2 separate regions of the Homo sapiens genome follow, and region 1 is linked to region 2. A link means that fine-mapping ties the variant in region 2 to the expression of a gene that starts in the linked region. Tissue or cell type: fibroblasts. Region 2 holds a variant in brackets; the other region holds the start of a gene. All regions are shown on one strand. Distances are from middle to middle.

What was found. PIP is the estimated chance that this variant, and not a neighbour inherited with it, causes the effect.
Region 1: it holds the start of AMMECR1, and the variant in region 2 is fine-mapped to the expression of AMMECR1 in fibroblasts (GTEx, PIP 0.98).

Annotation. Positions count from the first base shown.
Region 1 is chrX:110,314,117-110,322,225 of GRCh38, reverse strand. It overlaps AMMECR1 (AMMECR nuclear protein 1), which reads left to right and starts at 4,141. Exons shown (of 6, transcript NM_015365.3): 1 at 4,141-4,627. The coding sequence starts at 4,155. It overlaps LOC105373312 (a long non-coding RNA gene), which reads right to left and starts at 3,974. Exons shown (of 4, transcript XR_938504.3): 1 at 3,778-3,974. RefSeq lists silencers at 3,959-4,108, 3,841-4,175, 4,369-4,428, 4,473-4,628, 6,481-6,580 and an enhancer at 4,149-4,278.
Region 2 is chrX:110,190,280-110,198,388 of GRCh38, reverse strand. AMMECR1 (AMMECR nuclear protein 1) reads left to right here. Exons shown (of 6, transcript NM_015365.3): 6 at 1-4,203. Among named protein-coding and RNA genes, the nearest start is that of SNORD96B, 31 kb to the left of the region's middle. The variant A/G (reference allele first, on the strand shown) is at 5,066.

The DNA.
Region 1 (8,109 bases), 120 kb before region 2:
ATATTAGCATATCTAAATCTCATTAAGGAGTTTATAGAACTTTCTCTAAAGGAAATAGGTAGCAAAACAACATTCAATTAGTTTGTACTCAAGTTGACAATAGAAGATGTAAATGAAACAACTAGAAAACAATCCAAGGTAGATCATGGTGCTTTTGCTCATAAATGTGTTCATTAGATAAAGAAAGAATTTTGGAAGGAAGGATCTGTTTTGTAATCAGAAAAACAAAAACTGATTTACGAATTTGAATTGAAAAGTAGGTAAAGAATTTCAGTATTTACTCACGTATTCATTCAAATATAAAAGGGAACTGATTACCACCTCCACCACAACAACCATGTGTTATACGTGTACAAGGTTAGATCAAAGTGGTAGCTAAGAATATTACATTCTGCAGTTGTTCAAGGATGACAGTTGAGAAAGTTTGATGACAGAGGATAAAAATAACACTTGTTTGGGCATAAATGGCAGGTTTTTTTTTCAATGAAATATGTGAATGTTCCTCCTTTTACCCACAACCCCAGAAACCTAAGAAAATAATTTTGCAACATTAAGTTCACCACCTCATCGAATTATAATTATTCTTATTTTCTGAAATGAAAAAATAACTATGTTGTAAACACGAGAACAAATTGAGGCAATGATAATATATTAACTAACTATTGGGTTTAATTCAATTACTAGCTTTGCTGCACAATAAATAATATGCATAACCTCTGTCCAAGTATTTTTTTCCACAGTTGTAAAACAAAGCCTTTGACAGGAGTTAGTTAACAGCAATTTAGAGCTGCCTCTAAATTGCAGAAATAAAAATGCTCACAATTTGAATGTGCTTTGTTGACAAAGAGACTATGGCCTATTTTTTTTTTTTAAGTGGAATCTTCAGCTCCCAGATTGACAGTCAGTTACAAAGAGAGGAAGGCAACTTAAAGTTTCCTCTGGAGGGTATTATCACTGCAGTCCAGTATCAGCAGTGGGTAGAAACCATGTGCTCTATCATATTTTGACCTTTATACTTCAAGTCAAGAGAATCCTGAGCAAGGTCAGTTTTTCTATCCACCCAGTGTGCACTTTGCATAGATGTAAAAAAATTTTTTTCACAGAATTTGTTCTGTGGATTTAGTTTATGTTTGAATGAAATATGTTTCTTTTTATGCTGGTGACTTTACAAGAAAACAAGGCCAGGAGAGGCATTTCCTCAAATGCCTAAAGGAGACATTACCACCATCACCACTACTTGCCAAGCGATTTATAAAGCATCTTGAGGCTCAAGGTTAGTATGGGAGATGAGCCAGGCTCAGGAGAAGTTAACACAAAGATAAAGGTTAGTGTTTTTCCCCCTTTTAGTCAGCCAATACAACAAAGTACTTAGATAATAACCCCTAGCGGTCAGGTAATGATGTATTTTCTGCAATTATCACATTTGTGTTTGTCTATTTTCTTTATGCTAGTGAGGTTTGGAATTGGAATTGAAAATCCTCTAGGGAAAAGCTATTTTTGTAATTCAGCTGGGGTGTCCTTGTCTTTGGGTTTTCCCATTGCATCAGTCCCTTAGCCTGGCAGGATAGCCATGATAGTGCTTTGTCTTTTAGATGAAATGCAGAACTAAGGACATGACTACTGGTGCTTATTAAAGATTCCTTGCTATTTTTCACAAGAGTAGGGGCGTTAGACTCTTGTCTACTGGCCAAATTCTAAATTGGGAGATTACATTCTGCTTTCCTAAATTCCCCTAGCAGAAGCAGCCATCCATGGTATCCTACTTTGCTTCCTGTGCTAAACTGTTTTGTGATGTCATTAAATGGCTCTGGTTTTTTACTCTAGAAATGATCACTTTAGTGGGGTGGGGAGTAAATCGATACCTATTGTCTGATATTATGTTCAGTCTAGTTTCAAAAAAATTAAAAGGTAGCCTGTGGTAGTTAAGGACAAAGTACAAAACAAAACACCCTAACGTACAAAACACCCTAACATACCAGTTGTTGTGGTGCTTTTTAAAAAAACCAATCTGCTTTCTCTTCTGTAACATAGACAAAATATTAATGCATTTTTTTACTCCACTAGTAATTGACAAAGAATTGTTATTTGTTTCATACTTAAGGTTAATTCTAACAGTGATGAAGTTTGAGAGGATGAAATTACATATCACCGACCAATTAAACTATCCCTTTTGTCTTTAGGCTGCATCTAACCATTCCAGATTTTCATCTATCTATCTCATAAAATCTTTTTGGAAGGAGATTTTTCATCTTTCCTTGGTAACATATTTCAGTGTCTCTCAATCTTTCCATAAAAACTAAGTTCTTATTTCTGTTTAACCTCGGTTCCACCTGCTGGAGTGTAATGTCACTATCTTTTGTCCATCCTTAGCCTTGTTATCATATATTGTTAGTGAGAGGCAATGTAGTATAATGGCATGGTTTTTGGAATCAGACATGCCAGCATTCCAATCCTAGCTCTGTTACTTTCTAGGTGTGTGATGTTGGGCAAATTACTTCTGAGGTTTAATAGCCTCATCTGTTAATGAGTAACCTCAGAGCATTGTTGTGAAGATAAAACGAGATAGTATCTTATTCTGAAGGATTATGGGGTAGGACGAGGTATGGTATTGGAGACCTAAAAAGTGTTCAATACATACTATAATAGCTATTTATCTGATTATGTGCATGTATCTGACTTAATTCATAAACTCTTTTAGAGCGGGAGGCATACTTCCTGAGTACGCCCTGGATTTCAACAGAAGTATAGTGTTGTGCACATAGTATGGTGCAGAGGCTCAATATTACTGAATGAATAAATTGTTTTGTTTTTATTCCCTGAGTGGAATGAACAGCCCCCAGCTATCTGCAAGATCCCACGCATGTAGAAAAAAGGTGACAAAAATCAATCTGCAGTTTTTAAATATGCAGATACCTGACTTTATCTAGATGTTTTAGCATGGTGTAGATACAATGCAAATAACTTACGCTTTCTATTTCTATCACGTTCATTTCTACGAATTTTAACATTTGATTATTGTCATTATTTTTATTATTAAGCTGCACTTAGGCACCCAGAAAGGGACTGACTCATATGTCTCCTCATCCATCCAAGCATTTAATTGAGAAATTTTAAAAATGAATATTAAGAGCTAATTATATACTTGAACAAAATCTTTCAATTTGTGACTAAGTACATTACCTTCCCTATTTATCTCTAAGATCTGAGCACTACAGATAATATTCCTAATTGCTTTGTACCCAAGCCAAGAAATAAAAACCAAAACCAGAAAAGTCCACCACTGCAAGTCCCAAAGCACAATTAGTATCTTTGAACCAGTGAAGTATTAGTTAGGACTTTATTTTTGGCTTTTAAATGTTTAAACGGGGCAAGGAGGGTAAGTTGGGGGAACAAGTACAAGATACATAGATTCAGTCGGACTTGAATATTTCTCCATAAGGAAAGGAAAGAGTACCCTGGTGTGTGCTTAGGCTGGAATTAAAAAGACAGCAGCGTGGCCATTTCCTGGATTGCTTTGTACACACTTTACAGGGGCGGTCTCAGGTATGGAGCTCTGGGCACCTGCTCGCTCACACTCCAACAGTTCAGAAACCCGTGTATTTGAGGCCGGGTGGCTCAGGTTCCACGTAACTGGGCTTAAGTGTCATTAATACTGCTTGCGGCGGGGGGTTACTGAGCTGTGCTTTGGGACCTGGATGCTTACTTCGGACTTTCTCCTTTCTTCCCCCCTACCCCCACTAGTTTCCCTTTCCCTCCTTCCTTCCCGGGCGTGCCCACCTTCTCCCTTTGCTCCCACTTTCCGCTGTCTGACTCTTGTTTCCTTCACCTTCCTTTCTAATCGGCTTCCTGTCTTCCAACCTCTGCCGGCCGGAGAGATTGAGATTGGGGCTGGGGCTGGGGCTGCGGCTCAGAAGAGGCACGAGTCGGGCGGGACAGGCGCGAGGCGCCCAGCCGCGAAAGCGAGGAGCGCGCACCGAGGCGGGGGCGCGCGCGGGGCAGCCGCGTGGCTAGGCAGACGGGGCCGGGAGCGGCGCGCGCGCGCCCCGCCAGCCTCTGGCGCGCCCCCGGCGGCCTGAGCCGCAGCGTGCTCGCCCCCGCCGCCAGCTCGCCTCACTTATGGGTCGGAAACGCTGCGTGGGGGAGACTGTTCCAAGATGGCGGCGGGTTGCTGCGGGGTGAAGAAGCAGAAACTGTCCAGTTCGCCCCCCTCTGGCTCGGGTGGCGGTGGTGGCGCCTCCTCCTCCTCCCACTGCAGCGGAGAGAGCCAGTGCCGAGCTGGGGAGCTGGGACTAGGAGGCGCCGGTACGCGGCTCAACGGGCTGGGAGGTCTAACCGGAGGAGGTAGCGGCAGCGGCTGTACCCTCTCTCCCCCCCAGGGCTGCGGCGGCGGCGGCGGGGGGATCGCCCTGTCGCCACCTCCGAGCTGCGGAGTGGGGACCCTACTTTCTACCCCGGCCGCCGCCACCTCTTCCTCACCCTCCTCATCGTCCGCCGCCTCGTCCTCATCGCCGGGCTCCCGGAAGATGGTGGTGTCAGCAGAGATGTGCTGCTTTTGCTTCGATGTGCTCTACTGTCACCTGTATGGATACCAGCAGCCCCGGACCCCCCGATTCACCAACGAGCCCTAGTGAGTACCGTGCCCTCCGCCGCCCTCTCCCTTGCGCTCGGGATGGGGCTCAGAGTTGAGGCAAAGTGCGAGTCCGCCTCCCGGCCGGCGGATGCCCCTGCCCTCTCGCTGCCCGGGTCCCCGGAGCTACTCAACTGAACTAAGGGCACCCTGCGCTTTTTGCCCTCCGAGGCAGGCACCCCACACTTGGAGCAGGGTGCTGCTGCAAGGAATGGCCCCGTGGCTCCTAGAGGTGTTAGCTTTCTCTTTGCGATGACTTCGAGGAGTTTTGACTCCTTTACTTGTCTCCTTCACCACCCCCACCACCCCTCACCCTGCCCCGGTTTTGGAGATCTGGGTTACTCAAGGTGTTGACCTCTCCTCACTTTGGTTTCCATTACCCCAAGTGAAAGCCCCGCCAGTATTCCCGCCCCGCGTATCTTGCACATGGAGAACTACTATCCCATTGCAGGATGAAAAATAGCAACTATCCAACTTCTGTTAGTGATGGAACTTAGCTCTGGAGCTTGTGAGGTTACCCATCTTCTCCTCTGGGTTTTCTTGTGCCCTGGGAAGGGGGGAGGTTTCTTAAAACACATTTTTCCCTTACTACTTATTTTTATCCAAATACACCCATTAAAATGTGTTTCTCGTGTAGCGAGCGCACTGCCGGCTTCCTCACATTTGAAGAGTGCGACCTTTTTTTTTTTTTTTTCCATTCCACCGTCTGGATAATAGCTCATTCAAAGAGAACTGTCCCCACAGAGCCACGGTCAGTTTGTACATTAAGCGTGCATTCGCTTTTGTGTCGATTTCACTTTTTAAGAAATCCATGTTATACTTGATGATTTGAGAACAGTTAAATAGTAAATGTGTAGGAATTGTTATGGTTTCCTTTGGTTTTGTATCTTAAATTATTTTACCCTTCAAGTGTGTGGTTGAAAAATTTTAAAATAGCACTGTTACAGCTAAAAGCCAGGTTAATTCTAATCCCTGTCCATTTGGATGTGTGGGAGGTGGGGCATATGGTTTTTTTTTTTTAATGTGTAAACTGAATGTAAACTGACTTTTTGCGTTAAATGCTAGACAGAATGTAAAGACCAAGAGAGGGCAGAATGAGAAAAAGTGCAATTGCTTTTATTTGAGTACTTAGCATCAACAAGAAAAATAATACAGAAAAAATTTCAGTGAAACTCGTACTGAAAGGCATCAGCCCCTTTTCCAGCTAAGACAAGTGCCCCTTGTCCCCCATATCATAAATACCTGAATTGATGTTCTTTTAAAACTGCTCCTTTTCATTTTGTGAGATTAGAGGATTGGACTACTGTTGTATAAGTATAAACATTTCTGCCTAGACTAAAATATTAAATTAATATGTAAAGTGGAAATTACAATAAAGTGTCCTGGAAATTGTGCATTTGTACTGTTTGTTTTCTTTGGCTTTCATTCTTTAAATGTCTTTAATTTTGTATGACTCTTCTGTGGTCTGTGCATTTTCTTTTAGACTTGGTTAATCTTTGGGCATTGGTTTATGAGAAGTGCATGAAAGAGCATCCAGGAGAACACTTCGTCAAATAAATATCTTTATAAATTTCATAGTGTTAATTCTAGAAGCTTAAATCCTAAGTCCACACTTTTATTTAGCCAATTCATTTTTTTGGTTAAGAAGTAAAATTCATTTTGAAAAGACTGCCATGTAAAATAAATCTATGAAATATTTATTAGCTTGAGTCACTTATTTGTGACTTTTATGCCTTCTCTTGGATGTCTGTGATGTATTAAAGCTAGTCCTGGGATGATACTTAGGTTGGCTCTGCAAAGTCATGGGACTGCAAAAATTCACTCCTGTTTAGTTCTTGAGCTGTTAACATGAGTTTGGCAAAGGCTGCTTTAGTATTCACGCTCCATTGCTCCAAAGCATATGAGAACACACTTTCAGGAGGTGCTATTTTCACACATTTTACAGTGAGTTTGGGTTAACTCAATGACTATAACAAGAATTTTAAAAGGAAAGTGAGCTTGACCAGTTCATACAGAAAATGCTTTTGAAAATATCATTTTAACAGTAGCCACTTTGCACACGTATTTAGATATTATTCTATTCAAACACCCCAGCCCCTGGATTTCTTTTTCATGGAATTAAGCAGATGATAGGACACACTTTGACCACTGTGGATATGTTGAAACGGTGGTGGAAGAATAATAACTATTATCATCTAGCAGACCTTGAATGTGTCATGTATTCTATAAAACAACTAATGTAGAGTAGACACTAAACATGACCAAGTGGAGAATGAAAGTTCACTTAAGTGGAAAATGGACTGTCTTATTTCCATTTATCTTCAACTCATTTTTGAGGTGTACTGTGGAAAATTCAGGAAAACTTCCTGATTATGGGAGGGACATAACTAAGCATTTCAACAGTGCCTTAGTAACTACCACACATTTGTCTTTCTGTTTTACATATTTAACAGCATTGTGTACTTATTAGTGTTGCTTTATCCTAAGTGCCATAAGACATAAACAGACATATTGGGATTTTTTTTTCTCATAGTTATTATCATGTCATGAGCAGTGTGTTTCAGGTCATGTCTCTGCCCACCAGATGTTGTGCTTTTGACAGTTTTAACTTCTCATACGTAAACGCACACTCTTTTCATCCTTTCCCAGGACTTTTCTCTCAGAATGTCTGTAACTGGTGAAATCCTCGTTTTATGGGTTTAGAAGCTGTAGATCCATCAGTTAGTTATCCTTCCACTCAGTATTGAGGGGATGTCAATATATGAACAAGCTGTATGGATACAAATTCTTCACTGTTGCCCCCATGTTTTGATTACCTACCCAATTGCAGAAAGCATTGTACAGGCAAGTTTGTGCACAGAAATCTGGTTAAAGACATGAGGAAAACTTAACTTTACTGCATTTTGATATTCAAAATCAGCACTCTTGGATTTATGTAGGGAGCCCAGATAGCTATTTTATAGGAACCTGTTTGCTACTATAAAGGGATCCACTGTGCCAGGTGTTGAGCTAGTTAGACTCCAGAGCAGTCATTCTTAACTTTGGCTGCACATTGGAATCACTGGGAAGTTATTAAAAATATGGATGCCTGAGCCCCAACTCCAGAGATTCTAATTTAATTGGACTTGAATGGGGTCTTGGATGGGGCCTGGGAATCAGGATTAGTAAAAGCTCACCAGGTGAGTTTAATGTGCAGCCAAGGTGGCGAACCACTGGTTATAGTCTACTGAATCTTTCTCTTGAGATTTGGATAATTTGGGCTAGGGTAGTGCCTTGGAATCTGAATTTTATGAGCACCCTAAATTTCAGTAAACAACCGATTTGAGAAACTCTTGCATTGTGGTCTGCAGAAGACATCACCTGGGAAATCATTACAAATATAGGCTCTCAGGCCCCGCCTCAGACCTGCTGAATTAGAGTCTGCAGTTTAACAAGCTCCTCAGGTGATTCTTACGCACATTAAAGTTTGAGAAGGACTGGTT
Region 2 (8,109 bases):
TCGACATCGTCAACTAAGATCATCATGGTAACGGGTAGAAAAATGGCATTTGTTAAGATCCTGTTTTATTATTTTAGATCGTTGATTTTTTTTTTGCAGCATATATAATTTTGGGTTTTTTTTTCCTTATAATATTATGTAGAATTTTGCTTTGCTGTCTCAGTCAGGTTTCTGTTTTTCTGTCCTCCTTGCCTTTCTTCCCGTTTTGCTTCCTGTTTTCCTTCTTCCTTCCCGTTTTCCTTCTTCCTTCCCTGCCTCCCTTCCTTTGACTGTGGATGGAAGAAAGTGTGCAGTTTTTAGGGATTTTACTTAGGTTCGTCTTTAGTTTTCCTCAGTAAGATAGTTGTTTTTTGATACCTGAGTTTGGGATTAATTCATATCAAATTCAGGTATTTGTATATTACTCTTGATTTTTGTCTGAAATTCACTTTGCTATGACAGCCTAGTAGTTGGGTCTTCACTCCTTAAGTATATGTTTTTCCCATGGTGAAAATACATGAACTTTAGTTCTAGTAGTGAGCATTCAAAGGTCCGTGATAGGGCTTGTCACAGAGAGAGAGAAATCATTTATCCCTATTGTGCTGGTTATCATAGAAGAGACTGCCTCACCACTTTATAGAACCAATTTGCAAACTAAAACACTGTTTGGAGAAGGTACAAACTACCTTTCAAAAAGGCTACAGGAAACATTTTATGAGCAGCAAATATTAGGAAGAGAGCAGATACAGAATTTAGTGCCTTTGAGAAGAATATAATTAAGTGGAATTAAGAGGGGTTAGAAAAAAGGCAATTTAGAAAAATATTCTTGTAAAACTTTATTGTTTCTATATGTGAAACAGAAGATTAGACAAATTCCTTACTCTTAAGTATTTTTTTAAGCTGAAAAAAAATTATTTTGAGCAAATAACCAATAAGAGACATTTGTCTATTTTATATTAATTTAAATTTGTTAGCTCTAGGTTTCAATAAGTCATGATTGGCTAGAATCCATTTTAGCTACCATCTAAAGATATGGTAAAGATAATTTAGTAAAACAAAAGTTCATATTTGCCATGATTTCAGATATGTTTGTCATGGGGACAATATTAGAGTTTTAGAGATACTATAAAATAGCTTGAATTTCTTTCTGCACTACATACTTTTGATAGAAACACATTTACTACATTGATAAGATGTTATGTCACACCTGTGAAAATGGAGTTGGCATTCAGATATGCTATAGTTAGAGCCCAGCTCATCTGCAAGTATAGTCTTCCCATGATGCATACAAAGATAACTTACTGATGTCGATAGGAGGTCCATACATATATCCCCAGGAAAAATGACAGATTATTCTGGAGGAAGATGACCTTCATTTTATGGTTATGTGTGTGTGTCTGTGTGTCTTTGGAAAAATATATATAATTTTTTCAAATAGGAAGCCAACATATCAAGTGATGAATTAAAGTATGCTGCAGAATATATATTCTAAAACTACAAAAAAGTCACTGAATATCAAAATGATACAGCTTATACATATAGTTACTGTGACAAGTGACAGACTGCTAGTTCAGAATTCAAAAATCCTTTCCTAGTTTGTGAGATAATGGGCTAAATTCCTTCTGCCTGCCACTGGGGCAAAGCAAATTGCTTTAGTTTTTGATGAGAGTTCTTAGAAGTTTGTTGGTATTCCTTCATCCACAGCATCCATTGTTGAAATAACCATTTTCAGTTGTGATGCCTTAACTAAGAAGCCAATTGTTAGCCTGAAATGCAATCTTGGTAGCCAGTTTCAATGAAGCTAGAGATTAGTCAGAAAAAGTTAGCTGTTGGGCTTTAGAAAGGGATTTTGAGTCCTGTCATTTCTACTTGGGAGCATTTTGGAGCAGATTAGTCTTTCAGTATAAAAACAAGTGGCTACCTGATGGAAACTTTTCTTACCCTTATAGGGAAACTGAGCACAAGCTGAATGATATTGTCTGCTGCAAAAAAAAACAAACAAAAAAAAAACAAAACAAAAAACAAAAAAAAGGAAAAAAAGGTAAATAAAACAAGCAAACTGAAGAGAGACAAAATAGACCAATATTATCGTGAAATCCATCTTATCCATCATCTCATCGGTTCAACAGGCTCCTCGTCCTGGGTGAGCTTATGGTTAGAAGTTTTTTTAGCAAAGATTTATTACATACATAGATGTGTGTGTGTACATATACTTACACATACATACATACATATATGTGTGTTTATTTAACGGTGCTAATCAATCTTGAGCAGGTCACGTGACTGGTCATGCGGACTCTAAAATCATATCAGATTTTTTAAAATCCTTGATATATGCAGATGTTATACAGATTTTCTTAGCAGTGTAATAACGTTAAACTGAAGAAATAACCATCCTGCAGGCTTCAAAGGACGAGGTCAGCAATATTTCCCAACATGGCTTGGGGGAAAAGGATAGTTTTGTCTCCTTTTGTATTCAAGTAATGCAAAGTGCATTTTTGTCTCTAAGTAGCTTTTGACTAAAAGACTTTGTAGTGTAAAGGGTGTTATACAAACTGTAATGGTGTGCTTCAAACAAATGCTAGACCCTTTCACCTTTGTCGTATATACAAAGCTGTTAATTATGTGGTATGAATTAACTTTGAACATGTTGAAATATGTAGCATGTCTTTAACTCAGACGAAGATTCTGATTGCACAGGTTGTGTTCTAGCCAGTTGTGATTTATTTGTTCAGAAACACAAATGTGAATTGCACTCTTATCATCAGAATATTGTATGAGTTCAGTGATCTTTAAACAGCTCAGAAGTAATACTTGAACTTCATTTGAGTAGCACAAAGTTTACATAGCCCCTTTTAAATGTTAATTCGTTCCATTTAAGTTTTCCATTTTCAGATGCAACTGGGTATTTTTCCTCTTGGAAATAGTACGTACTTTGCTTTGGTATGTAGCAAAAGGCTTCCATTTCTGGAAGGGTTTTCTTGTTCTTAAACAAGGTCAGCCAGGTACCAGATTCTAAAAGAACAAATTGTCCCCCACCCCTCAAGTGGCCTTCTGACTGCACGAGAATGTGCTACTACCCTCTGTAGTCTCCCCTAACACGAGAGGTCAGTGAAATTGATGGAGGAAGTGCAAGGCTTGCTTCCCCTCACCCTTAAAGCTTAAAGCAGTTGTAAGATTTTCAGTCCAGCACATACAGTCCCAGTGCCCAGCACACCGGAAGTTTGTATACTGGCCTCTTATCTTGTCTTCAAATGTGCAGGAAATTTGAAACTGTCATCTGGAATAGGTTCCATCTCTTATGTGTGTTAGATCAAACCAAAGAAGCCCCCAGCCATGCCCAAATGCTGCTTCAAAAGCCTGCCTTCCAGTCCTTACAAAAACCTTGCAGGATTAAATGTGTTAACTTTTTTATTTTTGTACAGTTTCTAAGTGATTTTTGCTAGTGATGTTAAAATGAATTAAGTTTATTTGAGGGGTGTGAGCACCTCCTCCATTTAAATAAACTGGTGACTTTCCTTTTATTTTTTAAAAGTGGAAACCCGTTGTGTGCCTCTCGATTTAAGGGTTTCTGATGACATTATTCTTAAGACCAGCATTGATCCTTTATATACAAATATATGTTTTCCTTGTTTTTTATTGCTATTTCAGAAGAAAATGAACCTTTTATTTTGCTCTACCCAGTAACTGCGCTGGTACATAGACGCACTGAGCAAACAAACTTTTGTAACCACCTCTGACTACTTTTGTATATCAAAGTTGATTACTTTTGAAATATTTGGATCTAGTTTCTAAGTTATTTTAGTGTTTTATATGTTCCCCAAAATTACTTTGAATCTGTCACCAGCATAATGAGTTCTTGGTGATACAATGGTGAGACTTGTAATGAGCAAAAAGCTACCTGGAGTAGCTCCTCTTTTCCTTCTTTCTTAGTAACCTGTTTTTTGATTACCGTAAGACATCACAGATTACCTGAAACCCCTTCCAGTATAACTAGGCCCTCCTTCCTTCCACATTTAATTGCTTAATAGTTTGAAGAAACTATTGGAAATGGGCATTTTATATGACATGTATGGCTTTACAATATTAAATATGAGCAAAAAGAAAAAATATGAGAAGGTTTATGTGGGTCTGTAAGGTATGGCTGTGGAAAGATATTGTAGTAGTTTTGACACTATTGTTATTACCTTTAAAATCATTTACCCAATAAAATGTTAAAACCGAGTTATCATTTTATGTTTCTTTTTTAAGTTTAACCTCTCTCATCATAGGATCTTGGTCTCGTCGGTACTTCTTACTAAAAGGTTAACAGTTGAAGGCTCTGAAGGAATATAGTTAGGAACAGATACTGATTTATTGCCAAACTAGCACTTGGGAAACCTTACCTGCTTGTAGCCACTCCCTGCCATATGATTTGCCAATGTCATCCTTTTGTCTATCTCTGAATCCTGGCTTGCTGATATAGATTAGCCTTTATTTGGACACCCTAACCTGGCCACATTGATCCTTTAAGGATCCTTCAGATCCTTTGCCACAGAACTCAGGCAAATATCAGACTTGAATTCTGGCGGGAGCTTAGCTGTGCTTAGGTCCGCTCCAAATCAGTCAGTGGTTATTGGGCATTTCCTCTTTGTGAGCTGGTGAGGGGCAGTAGCAGTGCTATTCAGTTAAATCATCTGATATGGGGACCCCTTCTCCTACCATCAAGGCTTGCCCATTTTCTGAGTATAGGACAGAGTCTGAAAATGCTCAAGATGTGGTCACCCAGAGCTTGTACGTACTCATACACACACTAGGCATACCACACGCTTACACTTATTACCAGCTATTTTTTCCAGTTCCAGATTGGTACCCCCAACTTGGGCTTGGGGGAAACACCTGGATTGTAGGGTAGGGCAACTGGTGGTATTGACTTTCAAGGGCCAGATAAGAGCCTATGTCAAGAAAGGAATCTCTTGGGGTGCTGCCTCTGCCTACTGTTGCCTTATCCCTTTCTCTATGGAAAGGCTACCAAGGACATTGTACTTGTGTATGGAAATACCTCTGGCTCTTTCTAAAACATTTGCTGTCTCACGCACATTTCAAG[A/G]TTAGCTGCTAGTTGAATATATCCAGGACAATTTCTGTTACATTGCCCCAAAGCCCTGGTAACCATGTAAATTTTATGACACGTGCTTATGTCAATCACAGTGGCTAAAAAGTGTTCTTAGATCCTAGAGGACTATTGTGGTTTTAACCAGTGCTCCATAAAGGCAGCCATCTGCTCAGGTTTTACCTATTTTCATCATTCATGTTTAATGGGACATAAGATTTTTCAATGATTTCGACCATATTAATAGGTTCAGGTAGAATGAAGTAGTTTAATGAGCCCACAGCATTCTTTTTTACAGCATTAGTGGTTAACTCTGGTCTGGACAAATTTCAACTTCAGTAATCACACTCCACCTACCTAAATTCTTCCCAGAGTTTCAGCATTTCCACTTTAGATTTCATGCCCCTCTGGACCCTGTGTAAATAGCTTTACTGCTTCCGAGGGCAAGTATGGGCGTGTAGGATGAAGCAGTGCCCCTCTGTTGCTGGGAAATACTACCCTATCTAAGGGGTCCTATCAGTGTGAGGTAAGGAGAAGTCTGCGGTGGAGAAGTCACACCGGGATTCAGAGCTGCCAGCCAGGACAGCCAGTGAATGACTGCCCATTCAGAGAATGGCTTCTCCCACTTCCTGCAGCTTCAACCACATAAGCCAAGATAAGTATGGGTTTGGGTTGGGTAAGCTCTCATAGCTTCCCATCTGTATGCTCAAGCTTTTCACCTACAGGAGGAAGAAATGAATGGGAGGATGCAAGTGAGGAAAGCCCTGGATATACTATTTTTGGCTACTGCATTAAAAGGCCTGCCTTGACACCTGTAGCCCCATGGGACAATCTCGTGTTCAAACCTCAAACTTGTTGGAAGAACTCTTTCAAGAATTGGAGGGAATCACATTAGGTCTCAAGCACTGTTCTGAAGCCAATCTACATCCTCACCCCAAGCGCTTGGTTACAACCTTGTTTAGAAATGACCCCTTAATAAAAATTGCTGTGTATATAATGGGATATTATTCAGCCATAAATAAGATTGAAATCCTGTCATTTGCAGCAACGTGGATCAGCTTGGAGGACATTATGTTAAATAAGCCAGACACAGGAAGGTAAATACCGCATGTTCTCACTCATGTGCGAGCTAAAGAAGTTGATCTCATAGAAGTGGAGAGTAGAATAGTGGTTACTAGAAGCTGGGAAGGGTTGGGAGAGTGAAAAGGGAGAGGTTGGTTAAAGTAGGGATCCCCAACCCCCGGGCCGTGGACCAGAACTGGTCCGTGGCCTGTTAGGAACGGGGTTGCACAGCAGGAAGTGAGCAGTGGGCAAGCAAGCATTACCGCCTGAGCTCCACCTCGTGTCAGATCAGTGGTGGGACTAGATTCTCATAGGAGCATGAACCCTATTGTGAACTGCACATGTGAGGGATCTAGGTTGTGTGCTGCTTATGAGAATCTACTGCCACCCACCCCATCCGTGGAAAAACTGTCTTCCATGAAACCGGTCCCTGGTGCCAAAAAGGTTGGGGACCACTGGGTTAAAGGATAGAAAAATACAACTAGACTGGAGGAATAAGTTCTGGTGTTCTATAGCACTGTAGGGTGTCTATAGTTATGAATTTAAGATATATCTTTGTATAACTAGAAGACAGGATTTTGAATGTTCCCAACATAAAGAAATGATAAATGTCTGCAGTGACACATATGCTAATTACCCTAATTTGACCACTATACATTGTATGTATTGAAACATCACTGTGTCGCTCATAAATATGTACAATTTTGTATCAATTAAAAAATTAAAAATTACCTCTTAATGTATTATGTTTGGAAGGTACTGACTATATATATCTCAAATTGTTTAAATGGACCCACCCAGAGAGCCGGTGGAGGGTGCAGCTATACGTAAACCAACACTGACCTGCACTTACAGCTTTCCATCATGACAGATGATTACTTAATTTGACAGAGGTGAGATGTAGAGTATGCTCTCTGTCTGCAGCACACAGCTGGGCAGTGGCTGAATTACATGCCTCCGTGCTCACCAACTGCCATGGCATCTTTGAGCTCATGCTCCCATTCTAAAAGGACACATCCAAGTCACAAGGGGCGGGTAATTTGTTCCCCCTTTAGTCTCCCTCCATGGTGGGAGAAGCTCTTTGTTTTTTACTCAGAATCTTAGTTGGCACCTCGTTATGTTAAAAATCAGATTGAAAGAACTATTTCATCGCTATTAAGCACAAATGTATACAAGCTACTTATTAAGGAGAACGAGGTTGTTTTGATAACTATAAAATGTTGCAACTGGGTTGAATGAATAGTCTCAGCGGTCTATTTCTATGTTTTAGCTCTACAACAACAAGAAGGTCCTGATTTGCACGGAGATCAGATTAATTTTATGAAAGTGTGTACATATAGGTCTAAAGTGTAAAAACCCAGCACAGTCCACAGCTATCTGAAGCTTACAAGAAGTTCGGGCAGGAGAAGCATAAAACTCCTGAGGTTTGAAGACAAGTAAGTAACCTGATGGCTTCTGCTAACCCACTGGTGGTCTTCAGTTGCCATTCTGTATATAACTAACTTACCAGGTGTTGTTAAGTGTTTTTTGTTTCTGTTTTTATTATCACAGTTTCAAAATATTATGTATTTCAACACACACGTATTTTTTGAATTAAATGTTCATAGAGGGCCGGGCACAGTGGCTCACGCCTATAATCCCAGCACTTTGGGAGGCCCAGGCAGGCAAATCACCCGAGGTCTGGAGTTCGAGACCAACGTGGCCAACATGGCGAAACCCTGTCTCTACTAAAAATACAAAAATTAGTCAGGCATGGTGGCGCACGCCTATAATCCCAGCGACTCAGGAGGCCAAGGCAGGAGAATCGCTTGAACCCAGGAGGCAGAGGTTGCAGTGAGCCGAGATTGCGCTACTACACTCCAGCCTGGGCAACAGAGCAAGACTCCATCATCTCAAAAAAAAAAAAAAAAAAAGTTTATGGAAACTTGGGGCTGTTCCGACAGAACCCCAGGATCCCACAGGACAATCAAAACCACTGC